4 linked regions of the Homo sapiens genome follow. The protein of the gene in region 2 purifies or fractionates together with the protein of the main gene of each other region. This does not show direct contact. Each region holds a gene or a part of one and is shown on either strand. Other genes may lie near its edges. The genes, in order: JMJD4, SSH3, YBEY and ANGEL1.

Region 1 (8,832 bases), on a different chromosome or scaffold from region 2:
TGCTCACTGCTGTGCCTTGATCGGCCTGGACGAGCCCGCCCACACCTCCATCATACCCAGTGTGAAGAGGGGCTGGGGACCCACCACTCCTGAGAACAGCATCCTTGGGAAGACCCAGCTGTGAGTGCACAGCAGGCACAGTCCCTCAGGCCCAGGTGAGGATTCAGCAGCAGATGGGATTCCACCCCATCTGTGGCCTCTCCAGCTGTCCACAGGCCCTGCAAAGGCAGGGAGGTGGCAAAGGCCAGCCCAACCCAGCCCTCCACTCTGGGTACCCAGAGGAAGGCGCAGGCCGCTGGTTCCACAGCCCATCACCTGGAGGTGATGGAGGCCAACCCCAGCCCTGCCTGGAGGCCCTGGTGAGCTTGCCCAGCACTGCTCCAACCCCTCCCTGAACCCACAGGGCAGAGCCAGGGGTGGTCCAATGGCCTGAGACGAGGGGACAGGGCTGGCCTATTAAGAGGAGCCACCAGAGAAGGCACACCAGACACAGACTCCTGTCAGCTCAGGCGTCCTGGCCTAAGGAGGCAGGGCCCCCAAAAGAGCCAGGTCCTGGCACCATCTCCGAGCTCCCAGCAGGCCTGCTGCAGGTCAGAAGGGCCACATCCCATCTTGGGTCCCTGACCTCATTGGGCCTCACCTGAAAACAGGCACCCAGGCAGTGGCCATGAACAGCCAGGCCACAAGCCTCGACAGGGGTGGGCCCCAGGTCACAGGGAGGGCGGTCTTTATTTCTGGAAGGGCCCCGGAGCAGGAGGCTGCCTCTCTTCCACCCGTCCTTCTATCCTCACGACAGGTGCTATGGGGCCGCAGCAGCATCAACAGCCTCTCTCAGCTGCTGCAGCAGCTCTTTGGGCTGTGGTGAGAACGCGCTGGTGTCCACTCTCTGGAAGTCGGGGTGCGCAACCAAGGAGGCCAGCACCTCTGTGATGCGCCCAACATCAAAGGCTGCCTGTTCGAAACCCAACCCAGCACCGTCCTCAGCGGCTGCCTCCCTCAGGACCAGGAGCCTCTTCTCAGCGATGACCTTGAGGAAGTGGTAAAACTCTTCAAAGTTGATGCCCGAGCAGGACCTCATGATGACCTGGGCAGAGGGAAGAGGCCAGTGAGCTAACACCATGGACACAGTCCAAGCTGCAAAGGACCCGACATGCGCCCAGTCCCCAAGGACGAAGAAGGGACCATTAAGACAGAGGCACTGAGAAGCTGCGCGGTGACCAAGGGAGTCTGAGCCATGCAGCCTAAAAGCCTCCCCCAGGAGGGTAGCCTCCATGCGTAGCCACCCCACCTGGCAGTGGTGGTGCCAGTCGGGCATGGAGTCCCTCCACTCGCTGACCTCCTCCTGCACGGCGCATAGCTCCTGCTGCAAGAAGCGCCACATGTTGGCCAGGTTGAAGCCATTGACCCAGTTGTGGTTGATGGAGATGGTGTCATCCTGGAAGGGGCACAGTGCAGGCAGGCCTGAGCCCATGGCAGGTGCCCCCTGACCAACCCACATCTCCTGCGCCAGGAACCCACTGTGGGGTCCAGCCCTCTGCAGCCAAGAGGGCCCTCCTGTCTCCCAGCAGGGCTTGCTCAGCAGGGAAGTGGGTGGCGGGCTCGGACCACCTCAGGCCACAGTGAACCCAGAGCAAGTAGACCCAGGGACCGGCAGTGGGTGAAACAGAGGCTAGGCCTCAGCGACACCACCTTGTGAAGGGGTCAGCCTCACCCATGAGCCACCCCATTCCAGCCCAGCTCTGGCTGGGAGAGTGGGGAGGTGGTGCTGCCGTCTTCCTGCAGGAAGGCCCCTGATAGGGGGCAGGAGAAGCAGCACATTACCAGGTTGTGCACCTGGTGGTGCCAGCCACTGGGCACAAACACCATCTCGCCCGCTTCCTGCGTGATCTCCAAGGGTGGGCCAGCAAGCTGGTTCCGTGGGTGCAGGTGTGTGTCGCAGAGTGCTGGGGAGGTCACGTCGTAGGGCAGGTTGCCGTGGCGGTCCCGCAGGGCCTCTTCCTGCCCTGGGGGGAAGAGGAGCCACTTCTTCCTCCCACAGACATTGACAGACCAGCTGAAGGAGCGGAAGATGTCAGCATGGAACGGGGACCTGCGGCAGCAAGAGCGCCTGGTTCATGCCTGTAGGGGCTGGTATGGGCTTTGCTTGGCACCCCAGAGGCCTGGTCCAACTGAAGGAGGGGTGGCCCCTTGGTCTCAAGGGATGGCACCCACTGTGAGGCCTGTGCCAAGCAGCCCCCCTCCTGCCACCCTGGGCCTCCCAGTCCGTTCTGTCACCAGGCCCCTTCGGGTTCCACTCCCACATCCGTGGCCTCACCAGCTGCCCGCAGGCCCCGCGTAGACAAAGCGGTAGTCATCCACATCCAGTGCATCCCAGAACTCATTCAGCCAGTCGGACGAGAAGTACACAGGCAGGGTGAAAACGTCCTCCACCGGAAAGTCCCTGTGAGGAGGGCGCAAGGGCACCACCGACAGCACGTGAGGCACGAGGAGACTAGGGCAGCACGAGTGGGGCAACTGAGACCAATCGGCTCCAGTGGAGCTTCCAGATGGCTGCAGCCCCCAAAGAGCCCCAGACCCTCCTCTGAGCCAGACGCTGCTGGCGGGGGAGGGGGCGGGGCAGTCTGACTACAATGGTTCTGCTTATTAGAAAGTACTGATCATGCCTATAATCCCAGTGCTTTGAGATGCTGAGGTGGATGCATCACCTGAGCTCAGGAGTTCAAGACCAGCCTGGGCAACATGGTGAAACCTAGTCTCTTTAAAAAAAAAAAAAAAAAAAAAAAAAGCCGGGAGTGGAGACGCCTTCCTGTAATCCCAGGTACTAGGGAGGCTGAGGAGATCTCTCTCAAAAAAAAAGGAAAAAAAACCATATTGACCTCCCAAAGAACAACACTTGCAGCCATGCGGAAGACAATCCAGTTTCTTTTAAACTGATTAAAGTGCCTCACGGGGAAAAATAGCTCCGTTGTGCACCCAGGGGCCACCTTCATCAGAAAGGCCTCTGGGTTCACGCAGCGCTAGGGAAGGCAGCGCCTCGGTGCGTCCCAAGCCCCATTACCTGCACAAGTGCCAGTCTTTGAGGTAGAGACAGCCCCTGGGAGAGGAGTAGCCCGCCTGTATGTACTCTTTCCAGTAGGTGATGTAGTCTCTGAGAGTCATGTGCTCTTTGGGGTTCGAGTTGTATTCCTGGACCCCACAGTTTGCAACTGGTACAACCACGTCTCCTGAAATGAAAGGCACGGTCCATGCCATCTCCCTGGGCCCCGTCCTCACTCCAAACCGTCTGCAGAGGAACTCTCCAGGGGCCACGCGCCTGGCCTCCCTCACCCTCCCTGGTGCCCCTCTCTAGGCGGGGGCCTCCCGGGCCTGGGTCCCGCCGGCCTTTCCTCCCCGCCCGGGGTCTGCGGCCGCCGCCCCACCGTAGGTCCGTAGCAGGTGGTCGAAGTCGGGCCTCCCCGCGGGCGTCACCCAGCGCCGCCGGCTGCCCCAGCCCTGCGTGAAGGCGCTGGAAAACACGCAGGGCAGGTTGGGCAGCAAGAAGCCCCGCACAAAGTCGGCGTAGGAGAAGGCGCCCGGCTCCGAGACGAAGGCTACCCGGCCCGGAGCCTGGCCGACGCCGGGGACATCGACCCCCAGGCCTCGGAAGTGGCTGTCGGCGAGGGCGCGCGTCTCGCGGTCCATCCAGCTCAGCACGGGTCGAAGGACCCTCCTCCTCACTTCCGCCGGAGCGGAAACGGTGAGGACCAGCCTCGGAACCAGAAGACGCAGGGCGCCGCGTTTCTGCCCCGCCAGCGCCTGGGGCTCCGGGCCTGCACGCATGCGCGCGGCTCGCCGCGGTCTTCACTGCGCAGGCGCCGAGCGGCCGAGGCGCCGCGGTCGGCTCTGGGACTCGTCTGGCGTCCCTCAGGTGAGCGACGGTGTTGGTCTGTTGGGCGCCCGGCCCAAGCCAAGCCGTAGCGTCCGCCCTCGGCTCAGTCCGCGCGCTGTGGCTGACACAGCCCGAGCCCTCCTTCCCGCATCCCCGGGGGGTGGGGGGTATGCGGGCTGCGCTGGGAGAGGGGCGGGGACAGAGGCGGTTCTGGGGGCGGGAGTGCGGCGGTGCGGGGGCGCCCAGGGATGATGGGACCCGGAGAGAACGGTGGGACCCAGAGGGAGAGCTGGGGGGCCCTGGGATGGTGGGATCTAGCGGAGATGGTAGGGTCCTGGAGGAGATGGTGGGGACCTGGAGAGGACGGTGGCACTTGGAGGGGATGGAGACGGGATCTGGAGGGGACGGTGGGACCTGGAGGGGATGGGGACAGTGGGGACCTGGAGAGGACGGTGGGATCTGGAGGGGATGGGTACAGTGGGGACCTGGAGAGGACGGTGGGGACCTGGAGAGGACGGTGGCACTTGGAGGAGATGGGGACATTGAGGACCTGGAGGGGACAGTGGGGATTTGGAGGGGACGGTAGCACTTGGAAGGGATGGGGACAGTGGGTTCCTGGAGGGATCAGTGGCACCTGGAGGGGACATGGGATCTAGAGAGGATGGTGGGGACCTGGAGGAAAATGGTGGGAGGGCTGGAGGGGGCAGGGTAACCTAGATGGGCGAATGGGGCCCACAGGGGACCTGGAGGGCATGGCAAGGGGCCCCAGGGGATGACGGGTGTCTGGAGAAGATGGTGGGGAATGAGGGAGGGTGTGAAATGAAGGTGTGGTGGGAGTGTGGGTAGGGATTTGGGGCTGTGTACACATGAGCAGGGCTGAAGTGGGAGGACATCGGAGTAGTGACATGAGGAGTGTTTTGCCAAACTTGCAACTGGAGTTACCCCAAAAGTGGCGGCAAGGGAGTTCCCCACACTATCCTCAGGTGGGACCAGTTGGGATACCAAAGAAAGAAGTGCTAAATGCATGGTAAGCCCAGAGCAGTTTTTTTTTTTTTTTTTTTTTTTTTTTTTTTTTTTGAGACAGTATGCAGTGGCACCATCACAGCTTACTGCAGCTTCCACCTCCTGGGCTTGATGAATTCTTTAATTCTGCTTCAGCCTCCCAAGTAGCTGGGACTACAGGCATGAGCCACTATGCCCAGCTTAGTTTTGTTTTTTTGTTTTTGTTTTTTTTTTTTTTTTTTGTAGAGACAGGGTCTCTGTGTTGCCCAAGCCGGTGTTGAACGTTTGGGCTCAAGCAATCCTTCTGCCTTGGCCTCCCTAAGTGCTGGGATTACAGGTGTGAGCCACTGCGCCAGGCCCTGCCTAGAGGTTTTGTTAGGGGAACTTTCATATAGAGTGGGCTGCGGTAGTCCTCGAGACGGGCAGTAAGGGAAAAGGGATGTCCTCCCTAGGTATGTCTCTTGGAAGGGGTGTGGGTTATGGAGTTTATAGGAAGGTTTCAGGAATTTGGCTCAGGGCCAAGGCCGTTTTCTTTGTAGTAAACCTAGATACTTTCTTCCATGCCTGGAAATGTTAAAGGCCCTGGATTGGGTTGAAGCCTGGTGGGGAAAACCTGTGGTTGGGGCACAGAGGGATCAGGGTACTCTGTGATTTTCGGCCAGGACACGAAAGTGGGGCCATGGGGGACCCTATGTGATGTATGTCTTGGTGTGCTGGAGAAATCAGCTCAAAGCTACCCACATGGATGCAGAAGGAAAGATAGCAGATTTATTGCCCCCGAAGCCTGGCAGGCTGTGTGCACATAGGTGCTCTGCGAGAGAGTGCAGAGTCTGGGCAGCATTTCCCAGGCGTCTTGACAGGGAGGTGGAAGGAGGAACAGTTAGAACCGCTCATCTCTCCCAGAGAAATGAGAGGCAGCTTGTGCTGGTTTGCACACAGTGCGAGGCCTTTGAGTTAGGTTTGGAGGTCTGATGACATTCTAGGGGCCATCAGACCATGACTGTGTCTTGTAAAATCTGGACACTGGGCTATCTCATTCCAGACCAAACAGAGGCATCCTAAGCGGGAGAGGGGCACCTGCCTTCCCTTTATGAAGCAATGGAAATGTTGTTTTATTTACTCTTATAAGTGGGGATATGGGAGGTTCTAGGAGTGCTGGGGCTCTGAGCCTTGCTGGAAGACTCTTTCCAAGGGGTGTGAGGTTTACCCAGGAGAACAGGGAGGAGCAGAAGAGGGAGGACCAAGGTCTGAGGAGTTGGAGGGAGGACTAGGAGGAAAGTGAGTTTTGGGAGTCTGAGTCCAGGTAAAGGTGGGATATGAGGGCAGGGACAGGAGGCGGAGAGTTGTTTTGGGGATTGTGTGATTCAGTGCGTGCTATGGTCCCTTCCTAGTCAGCCCTATTGTGGCTTGTGTGATCACGGTATGCAATTGTTTATTGGGGTTTTTTTTACACTAGAGAATCAGAATGTCTGGAGAAGTTACAGTTGCAGAGAAAGAATCACCTCCAGTTCCGTCCAGAGATGACTGGGGTTTTTTTGCTTTGGTTTTTTTTGGTTTTTTTGTTTTTTGTTTTTTGTTTTGTTGTTTTTGCTGTTTTGAGACCGCGTCTTATTCTGTCACCCAGGCTGGAGTGCAATGGCATGATCTTGGCTCACTGCAACCTCCGCCTCCCAGGTTCAAGTGATTCTCCTGCCTCAGCCTCCTGAGTAGCGAAGATTACAGGCGCGCACCACCACGCCCAGCTAATTTTTGTATTTTTAGTAGAGACGGGGTTTCACCATGTTGGTCAGGCTGGTCTCGAACTCCTGACCTTGTGATCTGCCCGACTCGGCCTCCCAAAGTGCTGGGATTACAGGCGTGAGCCACCGCACACCCAGCCGAGATGACCGTTTTTTATTCCTGGTGTAGAGCCGGCTTTTCTACATTCCTTCACACATACATTCATTCATTCATTCATTCTCTCTCTCCACTCTTCTCTCCCCCCAGTCCTTGCCTATACGTTCACGCACATGTATGCACACACACTCACACATACACAGTCTCTTTCTCCATCGTGTATAATATACATATATAAACTTTTGCTGCTTTTAGTCTTTTGTTTTTTATTTAACAATATGCTGTAACATCTTGCCACATATTGACCTCAATATTGACAATTAATTGACCTTAATTGATCTTGCCACATATTGTTCCTTAATTGCTAGTAGTCATTTGATTTTGGTTGTGGTGCATGCAGATCATGGGAGGCCAATGGGGAAGATGTGGGGAGCAGAGTGTTTATAATTGTCTCAAGATCTTGGAATATGGTTCCGAGTTTGCCTCATGGGGAAACTGAAATTCAGGTGGGCATTGCCTGGAAGGAGTTCCTGCAGCTCCGTGGTTGAGCCTGTTTCCTAAGAAAGGAGCATTTGGGCTAGCAGGTCCACAGCTCCCTGAGATCACTGAGCCCCTAGGACTTGGTGGGAGATGGAGCTCTCGTTCTTGAGATGGAACTCTGTGGTTTAGTTCGCTGGTCCGCAGGGTGCCCCCTCGGGTCAGTGTCACCACTGTATACGCAGGAGGCCTGGAGTGTTATCAGCTCTCATGGGACTGGAACATAGGCTTGTGTCACCCAGAGCCCGCTAGATCAGCCCTGGCATCGCTTGGGAATGGCAAGAAATCCACATTCTTGGGCCCCACACAATACTCCATTAGGATGGTTTTTTGTTTTTGTTTTAAAACGGGGTCTTCCTCTGTCACTCAGGCTGGAATGCAATAGCGCTATCTTGGCTCACTGCAACCTCTGCCTTCTGGGCTGAAGTGATCCTCCACCTCAGCCTCCCAGAGTGCTGAGATTACAGGTATGAGCCACTGTGCCTGGCCAGGACGGGTTTTAAGTCAGCACTTTGGAGAAAATGCAGTACGCTTTGTGCCGAATATGTGCTCCTCTGTCACTGTGTTGCATGCAAACAGCCCCAGTGAGGGTGTCTGCACTTTGTGGCTAGAGTTGGGAACCTCTGAGGGAGTGGAAAGAGGGTCTGAGGAGCAGGGGAGGGGAGCCTGGAAAGATTGGCCGCACCCTACCGCCCCTGTGGGCACACACAGCCACCACTGTTCTCACTTAGCTTCTTGGTTGCGAGGTAGTGGAAGGTGTGCAAGATGTTTGTTCTGTGACTGCGGAAATTAACTAAAAATAAGTTGTTTACTGGGTACTGAGCCTCACTCAGGGGACCCTTGAGTGATGGAAATGCTGAAAGAGACCCATTGTACAGATCGCCCTGCGTGCTGAGCCATCCCTGTGCTGCAGACTTCCTCCCCAAGAGCGTCACTTGTGTGGGTTGGCTGCAGACACCCTTGGGCCCCTGGCCATGACCTCCCTCGAGGATTCAGCTGTGTGTTCTCAGGGTCAGCGCGGGTCCCCAGGCCCACACCTGCACTGGAGGAAGGAGGTTGCAGATTGCAACAGGCAGGGACACCGTGAGGGCTCCAGGACCTGGACTGATTGCAGAACTATGTGGTACAGGAGGGCATAGGCACAGCTCTGTTTCCATGTGGTGTGGTTGTGGTCAACTCAGCACAAATTCATTGGGTGCCCATGGTGTGTAGCGGGCCTTGCGGCCCTCCCATGATAGTGCCTTCTGTAGTGCGACAGTCATGAAAGCACCAACTCTCTGGAGTTTTGCTTGGGCCATGGTTGGTGACAGTGCCTTAGGAAGGCGAGGAAGCCCTCCGAACAGAGACCTGCGGAGTGGAGCCACCAATGAGACTCCCTGGTGTGGAAAGGCTGCTGGGAGCAGAGGGCAGGGGAAGGCCAGGGCAGGGAGGCCGCAGGTCCTGCAGAGTCCATGAGGCTGCGGTAAGGAACTTGGATCTCATTCCAAGTACACAGGGAAAGGCTTTGGGCAGAGAAGTGACATATTCTAATTCTGTTCAATGACTATCTCATTGACTGCTGGAGGGGGAATGGGTGATGGGGACAGGAT
Region 2 (7,620 bases):
TTTGTAGTGAGCTGAGATTGCGCCACTGCACTCCAGCCTGGGTGACAGAGCAAGACTCCATTGCAAAAAAAAAAAAAGAAAAAACCTCCTTCTTGCTGGGCACAGTGGCTCACGCCTGTAATCCCAGCACTTTGGGAGGCTGAGAAGGGAGGATTGCCTGAGTCCAGGAGTTCAAGACCAGCCCAAGAAACATAGGGAAGATCTCATCTCAACAAAAAACTTAAAAATTATCTGGGCATGGTGGCATGGGCCTGATGTCCCAGCAACTTGGGAGGCTAAGGTGGGAGGATCATGTGAGCCTCGGAGTTCGGGGCTACAGTGAGCTGTGATGGTGCCACTGTACTCCAGCCTGGGCGACAGAGTGAGACCCTATCTCAAAACAAAAACAAAAACAACCTCCTTCCTCAGCAGAAACAAAAAATGTGCAACCTATGTCAGTCCCATTCCCCGCTTTTTTCCACACAGTCCCTCTTTACCCACTGATTTTACATCTGGGAAGAGGGGGGATGGGAGAGGAAGGAGCAGGGTCAGCACTGTTCTGGGCCTGGGGTGTCTAGGTGGGGAGCAGGGTCCTTGGGGCCACTGTGACCCTGGGTTCCTCATCTCCCCCCAGGCAGCCCAGCTGGAGGCACCCCGGCCTCCCCGGCTCCGCTACCTGCTGGTAGTTTCTACACGAGAAGGAGAAGGTCTGAGCCAGGATGAGACGGTCCTCCTGGGCGTGGATTTCCCTGACAGCAGGTTCGAGCAGGGAGAGGAAAGGAGGGGCAAAGAGGTGAGGGACAGGGGGGACAATGGCTTTCCCTCTGTCCCCTGCCAGCTCCCCCAGCTGCACCCTGGGCCTGGTCTTGCCCCTCTGGAGTGACACCCAGGTGTACTTAGATGGAGACGGGTAAGCAATGGCAACTGGAGGTGGGGGCTGGAGGGTGGAATAACTGAGTGTGACGGATGTGACGGGGCCTGGGCACCAGGGTACAGTAGAACTTTAGGCTGGGACTCTGGGGCCTGCTCCCAGCTCCACGTCAGATTCACCGTGATCCTGAGCAAGGCACCTGACTCCTGGGTCTCGGCTTCCCGTATCCAGCAAAAGGATGGGTTCTCTGTCGCAGAGCCTGGAGTCTGGCCTCACCTGTGCCTGGTCTCCTGCAGGGGCTTCAGCGTGACGTCTGGTGGGCAAAGCCGGATCTTCAAGCCCATCTCCATCCAGACCATGTGGTAAGGACAGAGACTGCCTGGACTCAGGCCAGCCTCTCCTTCGAAGGAGGCTGCAGGGCCTGGGGAAGGGCAGCAAGGGAACAGTGTGACCCAGCCTCTCCTCCTGTCTCAGGGCCACACTCCAGGTATTGCACCAAGCATGTGAGGCAGCTCTAGGCAGCGGCCTTGTACCGGGTGGCAGTGCCCTCACCTGGGCCAGCCACTACCAGGAGAGACTGAACTCCGAACAGAGCTGCCTCAATGAGTGGACGGCTATGGCCGACCTGGAGTCTCTGCGGCCTCCCAGCGCCGAGCCTGGCGGGTCAGTGTGTGGAGGGGAGGGACTGGGTGGAGGGGAAGGCAGGATAATGCAGTGGGGGGCATGGTGGAGAGGGGAAAGGGCCCCTTGACTGAGGGGCTCTGCTCCCAGGTCCTCAGAACAGGAGCAGATGGAGCAGGCGATCCGTGCTGAGCTGTGGAAAGTGTTGGATGTCAGTGACCTGGAGAGTGTCACTTCCAAAGAGGTGGGCAGGGGGCCCGGGGACTGAGTCCCCTCTAGCAGGGGCTGCAAGCTTGCCTTTCCTGGGAGCCCTCCCCACCTTGCCTGTCTCCAGTCCTGAGCCATTCCTGGATGCCTTGGCCTTGGCCCTAATCCATCTAGATGGGATAGGGTGCTGTCCTCAGAGGTCCCAGAGGGAAGGTGGCAGGTTGGGCACTAGGAGAGCCCCAGCCTCTCTTGCCCTGGGCTCTGCCTGCAGATCCGCCAGGCTCTGGAGCTGCGCCTGGGGCTCCCCCTCCAGCAGTACCGTGACTTCATCGACAACCAGATGCTGCTGCTGGTGGCACAGCGGGACCGAGCCTCCCGCATCTTCCCCCACCTCTACCTGGTGAGCTTCAGCCAGGCCTGGGCCATGGGGACCGCTGGCAGCTGTGAGGGCGGCAGGCCAGGAGCAGAGGCTGGAGGAGAGGAGAAATGTGCTGTTCCCTCTCTCCCAGGGCTCAGAGTGGAACGCAGCAAACCTGGAGGAGCTGCAGAGGAACAGGTAGGGCTATGAGCCCCTCGGGCCACCCACCCCATCTTCCCTTCTCCTGGCCTCCCCGCATTGGGTGGTAGCCAGCTTCAAAAACCCCTGGACCACCCTCAGCAGCTGCTAGCTCTGCTTCTAACTCTGTCCTGGGGCTGTTGCCCTGGTGTGGGCTCCCAGGTGGGGACAGGAGACCTGCTGGCCAGCCCCCGCCCACTCTCCTCCCCCATCCACACTGTGAAACAAGGACAGAAACAAAGGGCCTCAGCCACGCCAAGACGAGAAGCAGCAGCGCATACTGCTGTAACTGCCTTGGACAAGCAGAAAAAGGCTCCTCTTGAATGCGCCTGTGGGCCCAGCTACTTGGGAGGCTGAGGCAGGAGGATCGCTTGAGCCCTGGAGATTGAGGCCGCAGTGAGCCGTGATCACGCCACTGCACTCCAGCCTGGGCAACAGAGAGAGACCCTGTCTCTAAAAAATAAGAAAAAAGAAAGAGAGAAAAAGCCTTTTCTCCACCTTGCCCTGTCTCAGGGAAGAAGGAACTGCCCTTCTCCCCGTGGGGACCTGGCTGCCTGCTCTGACAGGTACCTGTCATCTGCCCACCATGGGCTTCTGGGACCTGCTGTAGCCCCTGCCACCCACTGCTGCAGACCCACCCACTCTCAGCTTAGCTCAAAAGCTGTTCTCTAACTCATTTCTGAGAATAACTGAAGGGCTGGAGTTGCAGTTGGCCCAGCTGTCTGGACCAGATGGGGAAACAAGCCCAGCAGGGCAAGATGATTGGTCTAAGGTCGCAGCCAGGTGACAGCTGGGTCACTTCTCCTCCCACTGTCACTGCTGCCTCCATCTGACTTGAAACTCAGAGCTAAAGCGAGGCCCAGGGGCTGCCAGGTCCGATTGCCAGTGGGCCTGGTACCTCTGCCCACATCAGCCTGGCCTTGGGCCCTCTGGGACAGGGTCACCCACATCTTGAACATGGCCCGGGAGATTGACAACTTCTACCCTGAGCGCTTCACCTACCACAATGTGCGCCTCTGGGATGAGGAGTCGGCCCAGCTGCTGCCGCACTGGAAGGAGACGCACCGCTTCATTGAGGCTGCAAGGTCGGTCTCCTGGCTTTGCTGCCTGCCCCACTGTGGCTTCAAGCGGCCTCCGGTGCCCTCCTCCTGCCCACTCTGCCATCAGCTGTGCCATTCCTTCCAGCCCTCAGTGTCCTTCCCTCCTTCTCTACTCTCAGTTGGTTGTGAGCCCTTCACCTGCCCTCCCCTGCAGGAGGCGGGATCCTTCATGGTGAGGGGAGGGTGCTGAACCTGGCCTGCTTCCACAGAGCACAGGGCACCCACGTGCTGGTCCACTGCAAGATGGGCGTCAGCCGCTCAGCGGCCACAGTGCTGGCCTATGCCATGAAGCAGTACGAATGCAGCCTGGAGCAGGCCCTGCGCCACGTGCAGGAGCTCCGGCCCATCGCCCGCCCCAACCCTGGCTTCCTGCGCCAGCTGCAGATCTACCAGGGCATCCTGACGGCCAGGTATGGGATGGGAGCGAGTGGCAGGGGGTGAGTAGGTGGGTTTGCTGGGGGTGGCTGCTGGGTCACTCAGAGCTGACTCAGGGCCACCTCCTCACAGCCGCCAGAGCCATGTCTGGGAGCAGAAAGTGGGTGGGGTCTCCCCAGAGGAGCACCCAGCCCCTGAAGTCTCTACACCATTCCCACCTCTTCCGCCAGAACCTGAGGGTGGTGGGGAGGAGAAGGTTGTAGGCATGGAAGAGAGCCAGGCAGCCCCGAAAGAAGAGCCTGGGCCACGGCCACGTATAAACCTCCGAGGGGTCATGAGGTCCATCAGTCTTCTGGAGCCCTCCTTGGAGCTGGAGAGCACCTCAGAGACCAGTGACATGCCAGAGGTGAGGCTGGGGCTGGGGGAGCTCAGCTTGCAGGGGTGGGGGCCATAAGGAGGGAGATGGGGAAAGACCAGGATGGGCGTTTGACTGTAGACCTGAGCAGGGCGTACCCGGGCTAAGTCTGGCCCGCCCATGCAGGGTGTCCTGGGAGGACCCAGGGGGCCTGGTCCCAGCCTCCTTCACAGTCAGCCCAGTATCTCTTAGCACCCGGCGTCTCCAGCCTGTCCCATGAATACCCCTGAAGATGGGGACCAGCCACGTCCTGGGCCCCTGAGAGCAGCTGAGATCCAGTGAGGGCAGGCGGAGGCACTGTAGGCACAGGCTGGAGAGGGGTCACGGGGGCAGGGCAGGAAGCAGTGCCTGTTTCCAAGGCTCCTGGGTGAGCCAGCCCCAGCCTCGATCGCGGGCAGGTTCCAGCCTGACCACAGGACTAGCTGTCTCAGGGGCAGGGCTGCCTCCCCAGGCCATGAGCTCCACAGGCCCCTGCAGGCCCTGGGGGCGATCTCTAACCCCATGGTGGGGAGGCTAAATTAATCTCTGAAGCCCCTCCCTGGTCTGAGGAGCAGCACCTCAAAGGATGGGGTGGGGAGGAGTCTGCGCACTCACGCCGCCCAAGTCCTGCCTAAGTCAGCACCCTTGATGCTCAGTGCTGCGGGCACAAGCCTAAGCCTGGGAGCCAGGCCCTGTCTGGGACTCAAGGCCAAATGGCTGACTTGGAGGAAGGAGCATCCACTGAGGGCAGGAACATTTGGGAGAGGCTTCCTGGAGGAGGTGTGGGTGGGGAAGGATAGGGAGGCGTGGTGGGTTGATGGGCGGGTGTGGGCGTTGCTAAAGGCAAGAGGTCCTCACCCAGCACCGGACGCACGCATCCACCCAGCCCAGCTCAGGGGCTGGTGCCGGCACGGGTTTCACCTGCCGGCTGCCTACGCAAAGGCAGAGAAAGCATAGGAGGGGAGGAGGGCAGGGAGGCCTGGGTCTCCAGGGAGCTGAGGAGGGCTTCTGGGGGCCAGAAGGAAGCTACAAGCAGGTAGGGTTCAAGGAGCGGGGCAGCAGGGCTGGGGTGTTGTCCTCCCTCCCGAGGAAGCGTGGCTGTGGACAGCTTGGCTTTTGGCGTGCGTGCCACAAACATTCCGGCCCTCGCCTCCTCCTGGCTCTGTGCTTGGCACCCCTGCCCCAGATCTTCCCGGCTCTGTGCTTGGGCACCCCTGCCCCAGAAAGGCCTCCCATGGCTTCCGTATCCTCACACCTGTCCAGGTCTTCTCTTCCCACGAGTCTTCACATGAAGAGCCTCTGCAGCCCTTCCCACAGCTTGCAAGGACCAAGGGAGGCCAGCAGGTGGACAGGGGGCCTCAGCCTGCCCTGAAGTCCCGCCAGTCAGTGGTTACCCTCCAGGGCAGTGCCGTGGTGGCCAACCGGACCCAGGCCTTCCAGGAGCAGGAGCAGGGGCAGGGGCAGGGGCAGGGAGAGCCCTGCATTTCCTCTACGCCCAGGTTCCGGAAGGTGGTGAGACAGGCCAGCGTGCATGACAGTGGAGAGGAGGGCGAGGCCTGAGCCCTCACACATGCCCACGCTCCCCTGACACTGAAGAGGATCCACAACTCCTTGGAGAAACACCCTCACGTCTGTTGCCGCACACATTCCTCTCAGCTCCGCCCCATACCCGTCACTACAGCCTCACCTCCCACCCCTGTCACTACGGCCTCACCTCCCACCCCTGTCACTACAGCCTCACCTCCTACAGCCTTAAGTCCCAGGCCCATGTCTGCCTGTCCAAGGGCTCAAGACTTTCTAACTGGGATGTGGTAGAGGGACTGAAGGTACCTTTGGGGGCAACAGCACCCTAGTTTCATTCTCAACTCTAGCCCTGCACACTCACCTGTGGCACGGAATGAAAACAGAGCTTCCCGTGCAAAAAGGGTCACGCCTCCCACCCCCGCCCCCTCCCTGCACCTCCTGTCCTCTCCCAGTTCATTCCTGGAACCAGCCAGGCCAGGCAACCAGTGGCCCCCAAAGGCAGGCAGGATCCTCAGGCCCCAGCCGCGGGAGGCTGGAAGGGCTGGCAGATCGCTTCCCTCATCCACCTCCACCGGTCCAGGTCTTTGCTGCTGTCCCCAGACCTCCTGTGACACCACGCCAGATCACAGGGCACCAGGCCAGAGATAGTCTTCTTTTTGTCCTTTCTGGCCTCTGGCTAGTCAGTTTTTCATAGCCTTACAGTATCTGGCTTTGTACTGAGAAATAAAACACATTTTCATATTTGGTTATTTTCAATGTGACGATGAAGCCATCTGTGTTGCAGTCAGACCCTTCTCTGCTGGCTGGGGAAGGTGGCCGCCCCTTCCTCCCAGCAGTCTCCTCACAATTCCAAGGTGGCTCGTGACAGACCTATTTGGGGGAGTGCCGTGTTTGGGCGTGGCGTGGGAGGAAGATTGGGTAAGAGAAGAGAGGAAGTCAGTGCTATCTCCCCATCTCCTGGGGCAGGGCCTGGTAAATATGACCTGCTCACACCCACCCGCTCAGACAGGTCGGGCAAGGGAAGAAGTCGTCAGCGGGCAGCAGGCATGTGGCTCCACTGTGAGAGCTGGAAGGGGTTACTCATGAGGAAGTGCCTACCTGGACAGGACCAAGCCTGTTCCAAAAGCGAAGCCTCCTTGGGACACTCGGCGCCAGGTTCTCTGGCATGTTTTGGGTCCCAAGAATCACCTTCCTCCTGCTACAAAGCAAAGGGCCTGACTTTCCAAGCCAGGCTATTGCGGCCTGGGAAGAAGGACCCTTGGTGACACTTCCCCTCCTGCCCAGGGGTTCCTTCTGCTCAACTTTAGTGTCCAAGAAGAGTTAGTCATTCCATCTTTTTTTTTCTTTTTTTGAGACAGAGTCTGGTTCTGTTGCCCAGGCTGGAGTGCAGCGGCACGATCATGCCTCAGTGCAGCCTTGAATTCCCAGGCTGAAGAGACCCTCTCACTTCAGCCTCCTGAGTAGCTGGGACCACAGGCACACCTAGCTAAGTGGTTGTATCTTTGTCACTTCCTTTTTTTTTTTGAGACAGGGTCTTGCTCTGTCACCCAGAATAGAGTGCAGTGATATGATCTTGGCTTTCTACAGCCTCAACCTCCCGGGCTCAAGGGATCCTCCTGCCTCAGCCCCTGAGTAGTTGGGACTACCTACATGTGCCATCATGCCTAGCTAATTTTTATCTTTTATTTTTTGTGGAGACGGGGTTTTACCATGTTGCCCAGGCTGGTCTCGAACTCCTGGGCTCAAGCGATCTGCATATCTCGACCTCTCAAAGTGTTGGGATTACAGGCGTGAGCCACTGCGCCTGGCCCATCTTTGTCACTTCTATCCCTCTTCCCAAGATTATGTATGCTCTCTGCTCTATGATACATTACCCTGGTTTGGGGAAGGGGCCGGATTCAACTCCTTCCCTCAAAGCAGTCCTTAGAGATGGGAGCTGGCACCAAGCATTCTCAGTGACTGAGACTTCACGCCCAGTTTTAAGAATGAATCT
Region 3 (8,909 bases), on a different chromosome or scaffold from region 2:
TAGAGACGGGGTTTCACCGTGTTAGCCAGGATGGTCTTGATCTCCTGACCTCAGGTGATCCGCCCACCTTGGCCTCCCAAAGTGCTGGGATTACAGGCGTGAGCCACCGCGCCCGGCCCCTTTTTTTTAATTAACAACTTTGCTTCATAGAACTCACAAACTTGGCCTTGTTGGCATTTGGTGAGATGATTCTCACCAGCTGATCACACATACAGAGACAGAAAGTTTGCGAAGTCACAATTAAGCACAAAAGGGAGCTGCAGAATAACACACATGGGATGCCACTTACCACAGAAAACACACACAAAACCAACCACGTTAGTCTCCGTGTAGATACACTCATAAAAATGTCTAAAAAAATACACATCACACTAGTTAACTGGACTGCTCCTGAGTAACAGGAGAGATGAGGATATTCAGTTTTGTCTGTATCAATGAATTGTTTATAAAGGCAGTCTATTTACATATTAGTTATGTCATAAAATATTTAAGGTTCAGCTGGGAAAATAAGCACATTGCAACAGGCAAAAAATAACTGTAAAAACAAAAGGGGGTTGGGCATGGTGGCTCATGCCCGTTATCCTAGCACTTTGGGAGGTGGAGGTGGGAGGATCACTTGTGCCCAGGAATTTAGGACCAGCCTGGGCCACATAGTGAAACTTCATCTCAAAAAAATAAATAAATAATAAAATAACAATAAAATAAATAGTAGTAATAAATAATAAAAACAAGGCCAGGCATGGTGGCTCACGCCTGTAATCCCAGCACTTTGGGAGGCCAAGGTGCGTGGAACACTGAGGTCAGGAGTTCGAGACCAGCCTGGCCAACGTGGTGAAACCCCCTCTCCACTAAAACTACAAAAATTAGCCAGGCATGGTGGTGCACACACAATCCCAGCTACTTGGGAGGCTGAGGGAGGAGAATCGCTTGAACTGGAAAGGTAAAGGTTGAAGTGAGCCAAGATTGCGCCACTACAATACAGGCTGGGAGACAGAGCAAGGCCCCGTCTCAAAAACAACAACAACAAAAATGAGAGCCGGTACAATGACTCAGGTCTGTAATCCCAACATTTTGGGAGGCTAAGGCAGGAGGACAGCTTGAGGACCGGAGTTCGAGACCTGCCTGAGCAACACAGTAAGACCCCATCTATACAAATGTAAAAATACAAACTTTTTTTAATTAAAAAAATTAAAACTAAAAACAAATTAGGATTACCATATGACCCAGCAATTCCAATCCTAAGAATATACCCCAAAAAACTGAAAGCAGGGACTCAAATAAGTCATATGCCAATGAACATTATTCACAATAGCCAAAAAGTAGAAACAACCCGCGTCTGCCAACAGACGAATCAACAAAACGTAGTCCATCCACTCAATGTAGTATCATTCACTTTATAAATTTATACTTTATAAATTCCTATAGAACGTAATTTTGTCTATGAGAATACTCAGAAAAAATAGTGACGATATAAAGCTATATAACATAAGCAGTCCACGTTCACTGCACCCTAGAAAGTATTATGCATACATTTAGGCTGGGCGCAGTGGCTCACGCCTGTAATCCCAGCACTTTGGGAGGCCGAGGCAGGCAGATCGTGAGGTCAGGAGATCGAGACCATCCTGGCTGACACAGTGAAAGCCCGTATCTACTAAAAATACAAAAAAATTAGCCGGGTGTGGTGGCGGGCGCCTGTAGTTCCAGCTACTCCGGAGGCTGAGGCAGGAGAATGGCGTGAACCCGGGAAGTGGAGCTTGCAGTGAGCCGAGATCATGCCACGGCACTCCAGCCTGGGTGACAGAGCAAGACTCCATCTCAAAAAAATAAATAAATAAATAAAAAGAAAGTATTATGCATACATTTAAAGTCAGGATACAAACCCAGTGCTTCAAAGCAGTTATCTCTAGAGGACAGACTGACAAGGGGAATTTCACTTTTTTTCTTTTTCTTTTTTTTGAGACGGAGTCTGGCTCTGTCTCCCAGACTGGAGTGCAGTGGCACGAACTCGGCTCACTGCAACCGCCGCCTCCCGGATTCAAGCAATTCTCCTGCCTCAGCCTCCCGAGTAGCTGAGATGACAGGCGCGAGCCACCACACCCAGCTAATTTTTTGTATTTTTAGTAGAGATGGGGTTTCACCGTGTTAGCCAGGATGGTCTGGATCTCCTGACCTCATGATCCGCCCACCTTGGCCTCCCCAGGTGCTGGGACTACAAGCGTAAGCCACCACGCCCGGCCAATTTCACTTTTTCTGTATTGTTTGAACGTTTACAGCGATCATCTTCTATGACCAAATAAAACAAAAACAAAACCAAAAAACTCAACTTCCAAAAGTACTATGTGGTTAGAGCCTTTCAGAAGAATTTCTGAATTTCTAAAGCCTTTCAGAAGAATTTCACTTCATGAGAACAACTCTCCCAGCATTTCTAGAGTACTATATTCTGTAGGGACCTAGAATATGCCAAGTTATGAAATAAATAGTGCTATCCCAGCCTATGCTAATAAGATATTTGAGTACTTTCTCTATATTATAGTAAGCAAACAACTGAGGGACCAAAAAAAAAAAACAGGTTTTAAAGTGACAAGGTTCAAATCTAGGGTAACAAATGGCAAGATGGGAGTACTCACATGATCAAAGAAATGTACCACTGCAAGCTTTTTGCTGCGCCTGGTAAAGATGCGCTGCACTTTAGCAATTTTGCCAAAATGGTTCTCCAGAATGGTCCTGTCGTTGAGGTAGTCAGGGATGTTCTTGCACTGGATGGCTGTGACTTCAGAGGGAGACAAGCCCCCAAGACTGTCTGTGCTCTCGCTTCTGTTACTCTGACGCGCCGGAGTTCCTCTTAGAGAATCTAGGGGTTCAGAGAATGGACACTTAAACCATCAGATGTTTCCAACAACAGGAGGCACCAACTGTGTCGAAGCAGAGGAAATTTTCAGATGTAAGACCTGCTCCGATGACATGTTAGAATCCCTAATGTTTATGGGAGATTTATCTGAAAAATCAAGCTAACACCCAGAGAAACGTATTGAAAACCTGCCTGCAGGATTTACTCTATGTGCTACATTTTCAGAGCTCACCTTCTTTCTTCTCTCTACTTTCAGTTTCTTCCTCTTTATTCACACCTGGAATCCGGGAAGGTGCCAGGACAGACTGATTCCCTCCTGGGATAGCCATGTGGTCACTTTCTGCAGACTCAACAAAGCCAGTTTCCTTTTTGGCCTCCTTGTTGCCCAGACGACCTACTTCCTTATTGCTTTTGAAAACATCCTGTATCGTCCGACCAAATAAAGTACCTCCCCGGGGTCGATTCAGGCGGACAGGTCGTTTGTCTGGAGGATGATCGCCCCGGGACAGAGGATCCGAATCTTCTGCTGGCTCGTGGCCATGTCTCCTTGGGGAGCGATCCTGGTCCTCCTTCCTTTTCAGTCCTTTCATTAGGCTGGGAAGTGGTTCCACCTGGGAAACAGCTTCTTCACACCCCTGCCTGACACCTGCTTTGCTAGCCTGGAAAGGTTCGCCCAAAACCGCAGATGATACAGGGAAGCTACTGAAGCTATTATTAGAACTTCCAAATATTGACTTAGGTCCTCTCTTCTCTTCCTCTACATTTTGGTTTGACAAAGCAGGGGTAAAGGCAGATAATGAATTATTACTACTAACAGGTTTTGAAAAGGTAAAATTTGAAGTGGTAGCTGAACTACTTGTTACTTGAGGAAAAGAGAAAGGGGCCAGGCCTCCAGGTGCACTACTAATTGGGTGGGAAAATGTAAAAAACCCAGAAGCAATTTGGCTCTGGGTTTTCTCTGGCTCAGATTCAGCCCCCAGTATTGGTTTGAACACTGCATTTTCCAGAGGTTTAAAGCTGAATTCTGTTTTCCCAAAACCAGAGTTCACTATTTCTCCAGCTTCTTGTCCAAAAGCAGAAGTGCTTGGGAAAGCCCCAACACTGGTGGGTGATTTAAAACTAAATCCTGTGTTTCCCAGCACAGATGAACTTGAAGGCCCAGAGGTAGCCACAAAGGTGGAAGTGTGCTCAAGTCCAGAAAAGGGTCCAACACTTGAGGTTTGGGTGAACCCTAATGTTTGCACTGAAGAGGAATGACTTACTCCAGAAGACGCTGGAAAGCTGGATACCTGTGAAAATCCCGAGCTCTTCCCAGATAAGGTACTGTTTTGTCCAAAAAGAGAAGGTTGACCAAATCGAAATGGCGGCTTAGATGGAAGTGTTCCTACATTACTAGAAGACGCCGAAAAAGCACTAGGCTGCTGCCCACTGAAAGGATTAGTTGGGTTCATCTTCTGCTCCAATTATTAGAAGGTAATTAAGTATTATGTGTACAAAATTAATTGGCTTCCTGAAACAGCCTGTAGCACTAGGGAGTTCCCCTTCGTCTTTAGAACAAGCTGAAAGAGAAAAATTCAGATCATCATAGCTATGTTCTGCTACAAGTCTAAGAAAAGAATTTTTGAACACTGTCATACTAAAAGGATAACTATTTCAAAGGCAGGCAAAGGGTTATTATTTTCTGAGAGCCGATAGGTTATTTTGTTGGAGGGTGGGGTAGAGAGTGGTACAAATAATTACTTTGTTACAGAGGTTTAAAGCGTGATCCTTTAAGATTAAAAAAAAAAAAGCCGAATCTTTTTACTGAGTTAGTAAATTCATGAAAAACCTCCATTGGCAGTAAGAAAATGAATGCTGTTCCACCTTACAACTTAGAGACGAATTTCTCCCGACTTCCTCCAATCTCTACAGCCGGAGAATTCACTGTAACGCTGTCAAAACCTTAGCGTTTCGGGATCTCCTCCCACCTGGCTTCCCTCGGAGCGGCTGGAGCGCTAAGCACTTTCTCACATTCCTTCATCGCGCCCTGGCGGCCACCCTCGAGCGGGCTGGAAGGACGAGGGCGCTGCCACGAAGCTGAGGCCTCTCGGCGGGGACGGCGTGCCCGGGGAGCCTAATCTTCCACCCAGCACAGCCCGAAACGGCGGAGGCCACGCGCTGGGCCCAGGCCGGCCTGGCCACTGTCCCGCCCCGGGCTCGCCAGGGGTCGCCGGCGCCGCAACGCTCCGTTAGCGACGATGTGGAGGCCCGGGCGCGCGGAGCTGCGTGGGGGAAGGAAACGGCGCCCCTGGCGCCGGCCCAGCCCCCACGCTCACCGTCTCGCCCCAGGACCCCGAGGCCCGCGCTGCCCACTGGCCCCTCGGAAAGACTTGAGGCGCAAGCACAGGCTGCTGCCGCGACACTCAGCGCTGCGCACCGCGGGCAGAAAACGCCGCGGACCGACTTCCGGTTCGCTCAGCACTACCGGATTCCGCCCCGCCCGCTGCGATCCGGTTCCGCTCCCCACAACCCGCTCTGTGGCGGGGCTTCCGGTCGGGAGGGTCCGCCCGCTCTCGCGTCCTTTGCTGGGTCCAGACACCGGTACGTCCGGGCGGGTTTTTAGTCTCCCAAGCGAGAGCGTCGCATTCACCCGCGTGGGTCTGCGGGCGCCCCAGACCCCAGAGGACCCGGCCCCCAACGCTTACCTGTCCCCTCTCCTGTCCCTCCCCCATTCCAGCCCCTTCTCTCCCCAGCCGTTGCCCCTCCCCGCACCCCGCCGCGTCCGCGCGCCTCTCTCCGCGCGCACCCCCAACCCGCCCCCTTTTCTCTGGGAACCGCTCCTTCCGCTCCGCCCGCCTGGAGTCCTTCTGGCCGGATTCCGCGGCATCCTTCCATAGACCCTCGTTGTTGCTTCCTCCTTGTGGTAAATGTAAATTCCCTTAAGATTTTCAATCAGTTCCACCAAATAAAGTGATCTGATTGCGCGTGCATCTGTATTTTTACAGACCGTATTATCACTTGTACTGATTGGTCTTCTCTTACACTTTAACCCCAGGTTCCGTTGCAAACATTTTTAAAGGGCTGGTTATTCTTCCTGAAATGAGTTTGGTGATTAGAAATCTGCAGCGAGTCATCCCCATCAGGAGAGCGCCACTTCGCAGTAAGATCGAGATTGTAAGGAGGATTTTAGGAGTGCAGAAATTTGACCTGGGGATCATCTGTGTTGACAACAAGAATATTCAGCACATTAATAGAATCTACAGAGATAGAAATGTCCCAACCGATGTGCTTTCTTTTCCATTTCATGAGGTAAAAAAAAAATGTTCCTCTTCTTGTCTAGCCCATCTTCCCAGAGTAAATTTCCTGTCGTTTTGTTTTGTTTTGTTTTGTTTTTTAATTGAGACGGAGTCTTGCTCTGTCACCCAGGCTGGAGTGCAGTGGTGCGATCTCGGCTCACTGCAACCTCCCTTCCTGGTTCAAGTGATTCTTTTGCCTCAGCCTCCCCAGTAGGTGGGACCACAGATGCTGGCCACCACGCCTGGCTAATTTTTTTTTGTCAGTATTTTTAGTAGAGACGGGGGTTTTACCATGTTGGCCAGGCTGCTCCTGAACTGATCTCAGGTGATCTGCCTGCCTCGGGCTTCCCAGAGTGTTGGGATTACAGGCGTGAGCCAGAGCACCCGGCCTAAATTTCATGTATTAATTATATTATAGGCTAGGCTCCATGGTGCCTATAAGTATATATGTTACAGACATGATTTTTAATTTTAATTTTGAAAATTTTCAAATATACACAAAAGTAGAGAGAGCAGTATATTCAGCCTCCACTGATCGAGGCCCATCACCCAGAGTCTACAATTACACTGGTAACCCAGCAGGAAAAAGAAAGGTGACAGCCGAGCGCGATGGCTCATACCCATAATCCCAGCACTTTGGGAGCCCGAGGCGGGTGGTTCACCTGAGGTCAGGAGTTCGAGATCAGCCTGGCCAACATGGTGAAACCCTGCCTCTACTAAAAACACAAAGAATTAGCTGGGTGTGGTTGTGCCGGGCGGGAGGTGGAGGGGGGCACCTATAATCCTAGCTACCTGGGAGGCTGAGGCAGGAGAATCGCTTGAACCCCAGAGATGGAGGTTGCAGTGAGCTGAGATCACACCATTGCACTCCAGCCTGGGCAAGAAGAGCGAAACTCTGTCTCAGGAAAAAAAAAAGAAAAGAAAAAGGTGACTAGCGTCCACCCCCCTTCCCCTCCTAATGCTCTCAGTGAATTAGAAGAGAGAAGCAAACTGCTTCTGCAATATTTTTGCAGTTTTAAGTGGGATTCGTTAATGAATATGTGCACATTGGAAAAATTAAAACAACACTGAAAATAAACAGACTGGGGTAAATATTTCCAACAAACTCAATGTAATAGCAGTCAGGTTATTATCTACATTCTGTAGATGACTTCATTCAAGGCTTCCCACATTGTAGCAGCAGGAATTGGAGCAATCCTTTGGGAAAGCAACTTGGCATTTCAAACACATGTATCCTTTAGTCCTGTGGTGACACACCCAAGACAATAAACCAAAAGGCAGAAGAGGCCGGGTGCAGTGGCTCACGCCTGTAATCCCAGCACTTTGGGAGGCCGAGGTGGGTGGATCACGATGTCAGGAATTCAAGACCATCCTGGCCAACATGGTGAAACCCCGTCTCTACTAAAAATACAAAAAAAGTTAGCTGGGTGTGGTGGCATTTGCCTGTAATCCCAGCTACTCGGGAGGCTGAGGCAGGAAAATCTCTTGAACCAGGAAGTCGGAGGTTGCAGTGAGCTGAGATTGCACCACTGCACTCCAGCCTGGCGACAGAGCGAGACTCCGTCTCAAAAAGAAAAAAAAAAAAAGAAGAAAAGAAAATGCTGAATCACGTAAAAATGTATTGAAATGTTAATTTATTGGCTGGGCCTATAATCCCAGCACTTTGGGAAGCTAAGGTGGGAGGATCACTTGAGCCCAGGAGTTCAAGACCAGTCTGGGCAACATGGTCAAACCTTGTTTCTACAAAAAATAAAAACAACAATTAGCCGGGCATGGTGGTGTGCAGAGCTGTCGTCCCAGCTACTCAGGAGGCTAAGGTGAGAGGATCGCCTGAGCTCAAGAAACTGAGGCTGCAGTGAGCCAAGACTGCACCTCTGCACTCCACCCTGGGCCACAGAGTAACACCCTTTTTCAAAAAAAAAGTTACCATTTTCTGTAATAGGAAAATAAGAGGAGCATCCTAAATATCCAGCCATAGGTGACTGGCTTAGTGTGAACAGTCCTTAACTAAGTGGACTGGTCTTTATAGTCTTTATGTGGAAAATGTGAAAGACTCTTTAGGACAAAATACCAAGTGGAAAGAACAGGAATATACAGTCGTGTCCATGTGATGATTTAACTCTGTAGAAGTTGTGGATCTGCGTGATTCTGCATTGGGAGGGATGAAAGAAATGAAAAGCCATTTGACAAGGTGATAGCAACCTAAACAAACAGGCTTTTAAAGAAAAGGATGTTTATTTGGGATAGAGCATTGCAGTGAAAATACATGCCACATGCCATAGTAGACTGTGTGGATATTCGCATATTCAGGGAGGTAAAGGAAGGCAAGGGTTTTGTTTTTTTTTTTTTTTTTGAGACGGAGGCTTGCTCTGTCACCCAGGCTGGAGTGCAATGGCACAATCTCGGCTCACTGCAACCTCCACCTCTCAGGTCCAAGCGATTCTCCTGCTTCAGCCTCCCGAGTAGCTGGGATTACAGGCGCCCACCACCACATCTGGCTAATTTTTTTTTTTTTGTATTTTTAGTAAAGTTGGGGTTTCACCATGTTGGCCAAGCTGGTCTAGAACTCCTGACCTCAGGTGATCTACCCGCCTCTGCCTTCCAAAGTGCTGGGATTACAGGCGTGAGCCACTGAGCCCCGCCTGGCAAAGGTTTTTAAAGGAAAAAAACATAATTGTTTTGAGATAATGATCCTTGGTTGCAAAGATCAATAACAAGATTAATGTCCGTCCAAGGTTAGACAGGCAGTTGCTGGGCAGATTATCCTTGCAGAAGTTTCTGTGTGC
Region 4 (4,431 bases), on a different chromosome or scaffold from region 2:
AGGGGGGCTCCCCCTTCCTTCCATGTATCCAGCGCTCCCCCTTGATTTTTAATTACCAGGGTTATGGGAGTTCTTGATTTCATTGGTTATTTGCTTTCAGGCCGTTTCTTGATGTACCTTCTGACCTGACCTTTTCCCTGCCTTCAGGACTTCTGGGCCCAGCCCTCTTGCCAGGCATGCATATGTGAGATATGCATATCATGTATGTGTCCTCTTGGGGTGAGACTTCTGCACAGCCATGCCTGCCTCTGACCAGTCCACTTTTCATGTTGGGGCTGTAGGCCTGGGGCAGGTTCAGAGTCTACCCAAGTACCTATGTATGAGCAGGCAGCAGCAGGGCATGGCCCCATCTCTCCTTTTAGCCTCTGTGTTTCATTAGGCATTCATCCTGCCAACCAGGGCAGGCCCGGCGTCTGGGCTCTGGGAACAAATGGGGCCCACATCCTGGAGTGGCAAATTTTGGGGGATGCGCTACCTGTCCCAGCTGGCCCTGTGCCTCCAACCCAGAGCTCCCCACAGACCTGGTGTAATTTCACAAGGGCCATCCCTTTCCCCAGGCTTCCCTGAGGGAGGCGGAAGTTTGAACCCTTATGTGGGGTTCATTGGGCTAGGGTAGTGGTATGAGGTTTAAAACTATTTAAGGATTAGGAGGAGAAAGAGTCTTCAGGAAACTCTTGTTTCACTGGACTCTGCAGCCTGCAGAACTGGGGCAAGGGTAGGAGTTCCAGTAGGGGAAGGAGCAGGTAGACTCTTCAGCTGCCTCAGCTGGGACTGAAGACCTAAGCTGATTCTCTTTCCTCTCCACTCCTAAGAAGCAATTTTCTGTTCCTCTCCTTCCACCACTTTTTACTTTCTGCTATCTCCCATCTCCCGCTTCCCTTCCATTTCCTTTCTAGAAAACCCTGGTATTTAGCTCAGGCCAAACTGCCTCAGCAGAAAGGTGGCCTTGGACAAAACTGGTCCAAGAATTTGAAGTGGCAGTACTTGCGGATTGGCTCTGTCCAGCAAGGCCTCAGCTGCTTGTTGCGTCTGCTTTCCCTCCCCTAACAGAAGGGTACCCTGGCTTATTCAGGGGACTCCTTAGTCCACACTGTGTCACCTGCATGCCTTAATCTTTCATTGCTGGGGTGTGGCCTTGGGAGATCCTGGGCCAGCCCCTCCACACATCTCCCTAAGTCAGAGTGGCTGCTGGCCCTGGTAGATTTGACTTGCTCTTGCCTCACTCGACCTCCAAAGTGGGACTGAAGACAGTGGTCAAGAGACTTGAGTTCGGGACAGTAAGCCAGGGGTTAAGGTTCTTTCCTTTTTTTGAAAGCCAAAGACCCAGTTTGCATTGTGCTGCTGCATTCATGGTTAGAAGCTTTCCATGCCTAGGTTCTAGGGAATTTATTTTTCTATGTGTATATATTTTCAAACTTTGTTTCCTGGGTACTGGGCATGTGCCTGTCTGAGCCCCAGGTCTGTCTACACCCCACCATTCATTCTGTCTGTCTGTTCCCTGGACACTGCCTAAAAGGGTCTCAAGACAGTGCCCTGTGGGTTCCTAGGACTAGGGCCCATCACTGTTCTCTTCTGCTGGGAAATGCAGCTTTAAAATGGCTAACCACAGCAGAGGGCAGATGCTTGATAGATTATCTTTTCCTTGCTTTCTTGTTTCTGTTTTGAAAGTGAAATGGGGTTTTAAATTGTTATTTAAACTCTTTTTCCAAATAAAGGTTTACCTTTTTTCCCCCCAATGTTGTTCATTTTATTAGGATCCTGAAGGGATTAGGTCCTTGAGAGAGGGCCTGAAGAATGAGGTGGGCAGAGGAAGAGACTAAGGAGCTTTTGATCTTGGGGTGGGGTCTCAAGACATGAATCTAGATTGAGAAATGTGTTGTAAGATCTCCCTCTATTAGCTGAGGTAAATTCCCACTGCTGTGAGGCCTGGGAGGAACAGGGCTTGAGTGAAGCCTCCTGCCTTGACACTGCTGGGGTACAGCTTTCTTCTGTCCTTCCCAAGTGAGAGAATGATTCTTTGGACTGCTTTTCATTCTTCCTCCATCTGCTCCCCCCATGCCTCCTCCTAGTATCTTCTGCACTTCAGGAGGGTCTGTGCAAAGTGGGATAAGATGTGTGTTTTCCTGATTAAAGCTATGGCAGCTGCATGAGACATGATGCGGGTGGCACATGCCTCTTGCTGAGCATCTATTTCTGATCTCTTTTGCATTCTGGAGCCAGGGCTGAGCAGTGGGCCATCTGTCGCTGGAAAAATGTCTCTTCCTTCCTAGGCCTACCTCTGTTGGTGCTTTTGTCTTCCAACCTCCCTATGTAGTAAGACCAGCCAAGCCCACATGCCCACTGGGAGCCCTGAAACCAGATCTGGTTTTCTGTCTTACCTGAACAGGTTCCCAGAACCCACACCAGGCCTCTGAATCAGTCTCTGAGAATCTGATTGATTTAAAGCCACTTGGTTGCTTCCATTGCACTACCTGGGTTGCGATCCCCTCAATTGATTTAGTAAAAAGAAAACTTAGCGGCCGGGTGCGGTGGCTCACACCTGTAATCCCAGCACTTTGGGAGGCTGAGGCGGGTGGATCACCTGAGGTCGAGAGTTCCAGACCAGCCTGACCAACATGAAGAAATCCCGTCTCTACTAAAAATACAAAATTAGCCGGGCGTGATGGCGCATGCCTGTAATCCCAGCTACTTGGAGGCTGAGGCAGGAGAATTGCTTGAACCTGGGAAGCGGAGGTTGTGGTGAGCCGAGATCATGCCATTGCACTCCAGCCTGGACAACAAGAGTGAAACTCCATCTCAAAAAAAAAAAAAGAAAAGAAAAGAAAAGAAAGAAAACTCAGCTAGGAATTAGAAACATCATTTGTCCTCTTGGCCTGTTCAGCTGGTGACTGTAGGTAAGTTACTTAACCTCTCTGTATTTCAGTTCACATTCCTTGGTGAAATAGAAATTAAAGTTAATAATCACTTCTACTTGTGAAGAATTTTCAGATCTGAAATTGCTTTGTTTGGGCTTTGGCAAGAAAAAGGTGCTAAGAATTCCAGAGAATTATTGGTAGGAGTTGGGAGTAGATCGTTACCCCAGCCAGGCTGGACAGTTGGGCCCATTGGCTAGGAAGTATTTGAAAGCCCTAAGCTTTGAGGTATATCCCCAAGAACCTCTTCCTGGCAGGGAGGGTTCCTCCTAGTTGCCTCAGTCAGTTAGCATCTCCACAGCACTTCTGTTAAGTTTGCACAGTACTTCCACGTCAGCTAGCAAAGACAGTGGCACTGTGTGGTGGCAGTTTAGGTGGTGTTCAGATTCTACCTTTACACCTGAGGAAACAGAAATCCCAGAGATAGAATTTGAGAATCTCCTTTGGTTTATTTCTTACCACCCCAAGTTTCTCACAAGCCTTTCCAGGATCAGGCAAGACAGGTTATCTTGGAAGGCAGAGGCTGGTGGTGGGGGCCTGGGGCTGGGGGAGCTCAGAGGCAGCTTTTAACTGGAGACCAAGAAGGGAAATGGCCAGTCAGGAGGCTGCTGCTTTTTTTGTTTTGTTTTTCTCTCCAGTTCCTGCCCTGTTGTAGCTACTAACTAGAGGAATGTTCTGGTTGTTTTGTTTTTCCTTTTTAAAATTGACATGTGATAGTTGTACATATTTTGGGGCTGCATATGGTATTTTGATACATGCGTACAAAGTGTAATGACCAGTCAGGATATTTAAGGACATTTATCACCTCAAGCATTTATCTTTTCCTTGTGCTGGGAACATTCCAATTCTTCTAGCTATTTTGAAATATACAATAAATTGTTAACTATAGTCTCCCTACTGTACTATCAAATACTAGAACTTAGTCCTCACCATATTTTTGTACCATCCACCTGCTCTTCATTCTCCTCCCCTGCTTTTCCCAGCTTCTGGTAACCCCATTCCGCCCTCTATTGGAGGGTTGTGTTTTGATTGGCTGCGAAATGCACAGTGTGGCTTCTCTTCTCCCAGGAGTGGGAGGGGCCACCTCTAGGGTCCACCAGGGGGAGCTGCCCTGCAGCCCTGGGCTCCCATCACTCTGGTCCATCCCCTCTCCTCTCCCTCCTGAGCAAATGTGCTAGACAAGACTGTTCCAGGTATGGGCCAGCCAGATGGCAGCATGGTGGTGAGGGTGCAGATCTGCTGGAAGCAAGAGAATGTGGACTTCATGGGTTGTGGAGGGAACTCTGCACTTCTGTCCCATCCCCAGTCAGCTCCTATGACCCTAAGGCCTGAAGCCTCAGCTCGCTGTGGAGAGAACAGAGCCTACACTTAAAATTCTTGGAGGTTTTGTGCTTCCAACAACCAAGTCCTTTCAGGCTCAGGGTTGGAAAAAGTTTGTATATCTGTGTGCACATTGTCATTTGGACGGGGCTCAGAGAGGTGACCTGCCAGCTGACCTGACGTGGCCTCTCCTCATCTT

What was found.
Region 1: the proteins of SSH3 (region 2) and JMJD4 purify together in Homo sapiens (affinity purification with mass spectrometry; 2 studies listed by BioGRID and IntAct, with this or other methods). This does not show direct contact.
Region 3: the proteins of SSH3 (region 2) and YBEY purify together in Homo sapiens (affinity purification with mass spectrometry; 2 studies listed by BioGRID and IntAct, with this or other methods). This does not show direct contact.
Region 4: the proteins of SSH3 (region 2) and ANGEL1 purify together in Homo sapiens (affinity purification with mass spectrometry; 2 studies listed by BioGRID and IntAct, with this or other methods). This does not show direct contact.

The regions. Positions count from the first base shown.
Region 1 is NC_000001.11:227,731,593-227,740,424, forward strand, and holds the start of JMJD4 (2-oxoglutarate and iron-dependent oxygenase JMJD4), read right to left. Parts: upstream 3,711-8,832; 5' UTR 3,682-3,710; coding exon 3,420-3,681; exon of another isoform or gene 3,225-3,419; coding exon 3,059-3,224; exon of another isoform or gene 2,441-3,058; coding exon 2,315-2,440; exon of another isoform or gene 2,090-2,314; coding exon 1,822-2,089; exon of another isoform or gene 1,436-1,821; coding exon 1,289-1,435; exon of another isoform or gene 1,085-1,288; coding exon 800-1,084; 3' UTR 1-799. Other genes in the region: SNAP47 (synaptosomal-associated protein 47), read left to right, coding at 3,818-3,907. UniProt on the Homo sapiens protein: Catalyzes the 2-oxoglutarate and iron-dependent C4-lysyl hydroxylation of ETF1 at 'Lys-63' thereby promoting the translational termination efficiency of ETF1.
Region 2 is NC_000011.10:67,306,225-67,313,844, forward strand, and holds the end of SSH3 (protein phosphatase Slingshot homolog 3), read left to right. Parts: intron 1-613; coding exon 614-738; intron 739-817; coding exon 818-889; intron 890-1,146; coding exon 1,147-1,212; intron 1,213-1,324; coding exon 1,325-1,513; intron 1,514-1,621; coding exon 1,622-1,715; intron 1,716-1,949; coding exon 1,950-2,078; intron 2,079-2,187; coding exon 2,188-2,234; intron 2,235-3,172; coding exon 3,173-3,319; intron 3,320-3,543; coding exon 3,544-3,744; intron 3,745-3,841; coding exon 3,842-4,115; intron 4,116-5,366; coding exon 5,367-5,663; 3' UTR 5,664-6,368; downstream 6,369-7,620. UniProt on the Homo sapiens protein: Protein phosphatase which may play a role in the regulation of actin filament dynamics. Can dephosphorylate and activate the actin binding/depolymerizing factor cofilin, which subsequently binds to actin filaments and stimulates their disassembly.
Region 3 is NC_000021.9:46,280,988-46,289,896, forward strand, and holds the start of YBEY (endoribonuclease YbeY), read left to right. Parts: upstream 1-5,354; 5' UTR 5,355-5,428; exon of another isoform or gene 5,429-5,756; intron 5,757-5,882; 5' UTR 5,883-5,926; coding exon 5,927-6,136; intron 6,137-8,909. Other genes in the region: MCM3AP (germinal-center associated nuclear protein), read right to left, coding at 2,628-2,851, 3,081-4,299. UniProt on the Homo sapiens protein: Single strand-specific metallo-endoribonuclease involved in rRNA maturation.
Region 4 is NC_000014.9:76,784,548-76,788,978, reverse strand, and holds the end of ANGEL1 (protein angel homolog 1), read left to right. Parts: 3' UTR 1-2,386; coding exon of another isoform or gene 2,387-2,610; 3' UTR 2,611-2,970; downstream 2,971-4,431.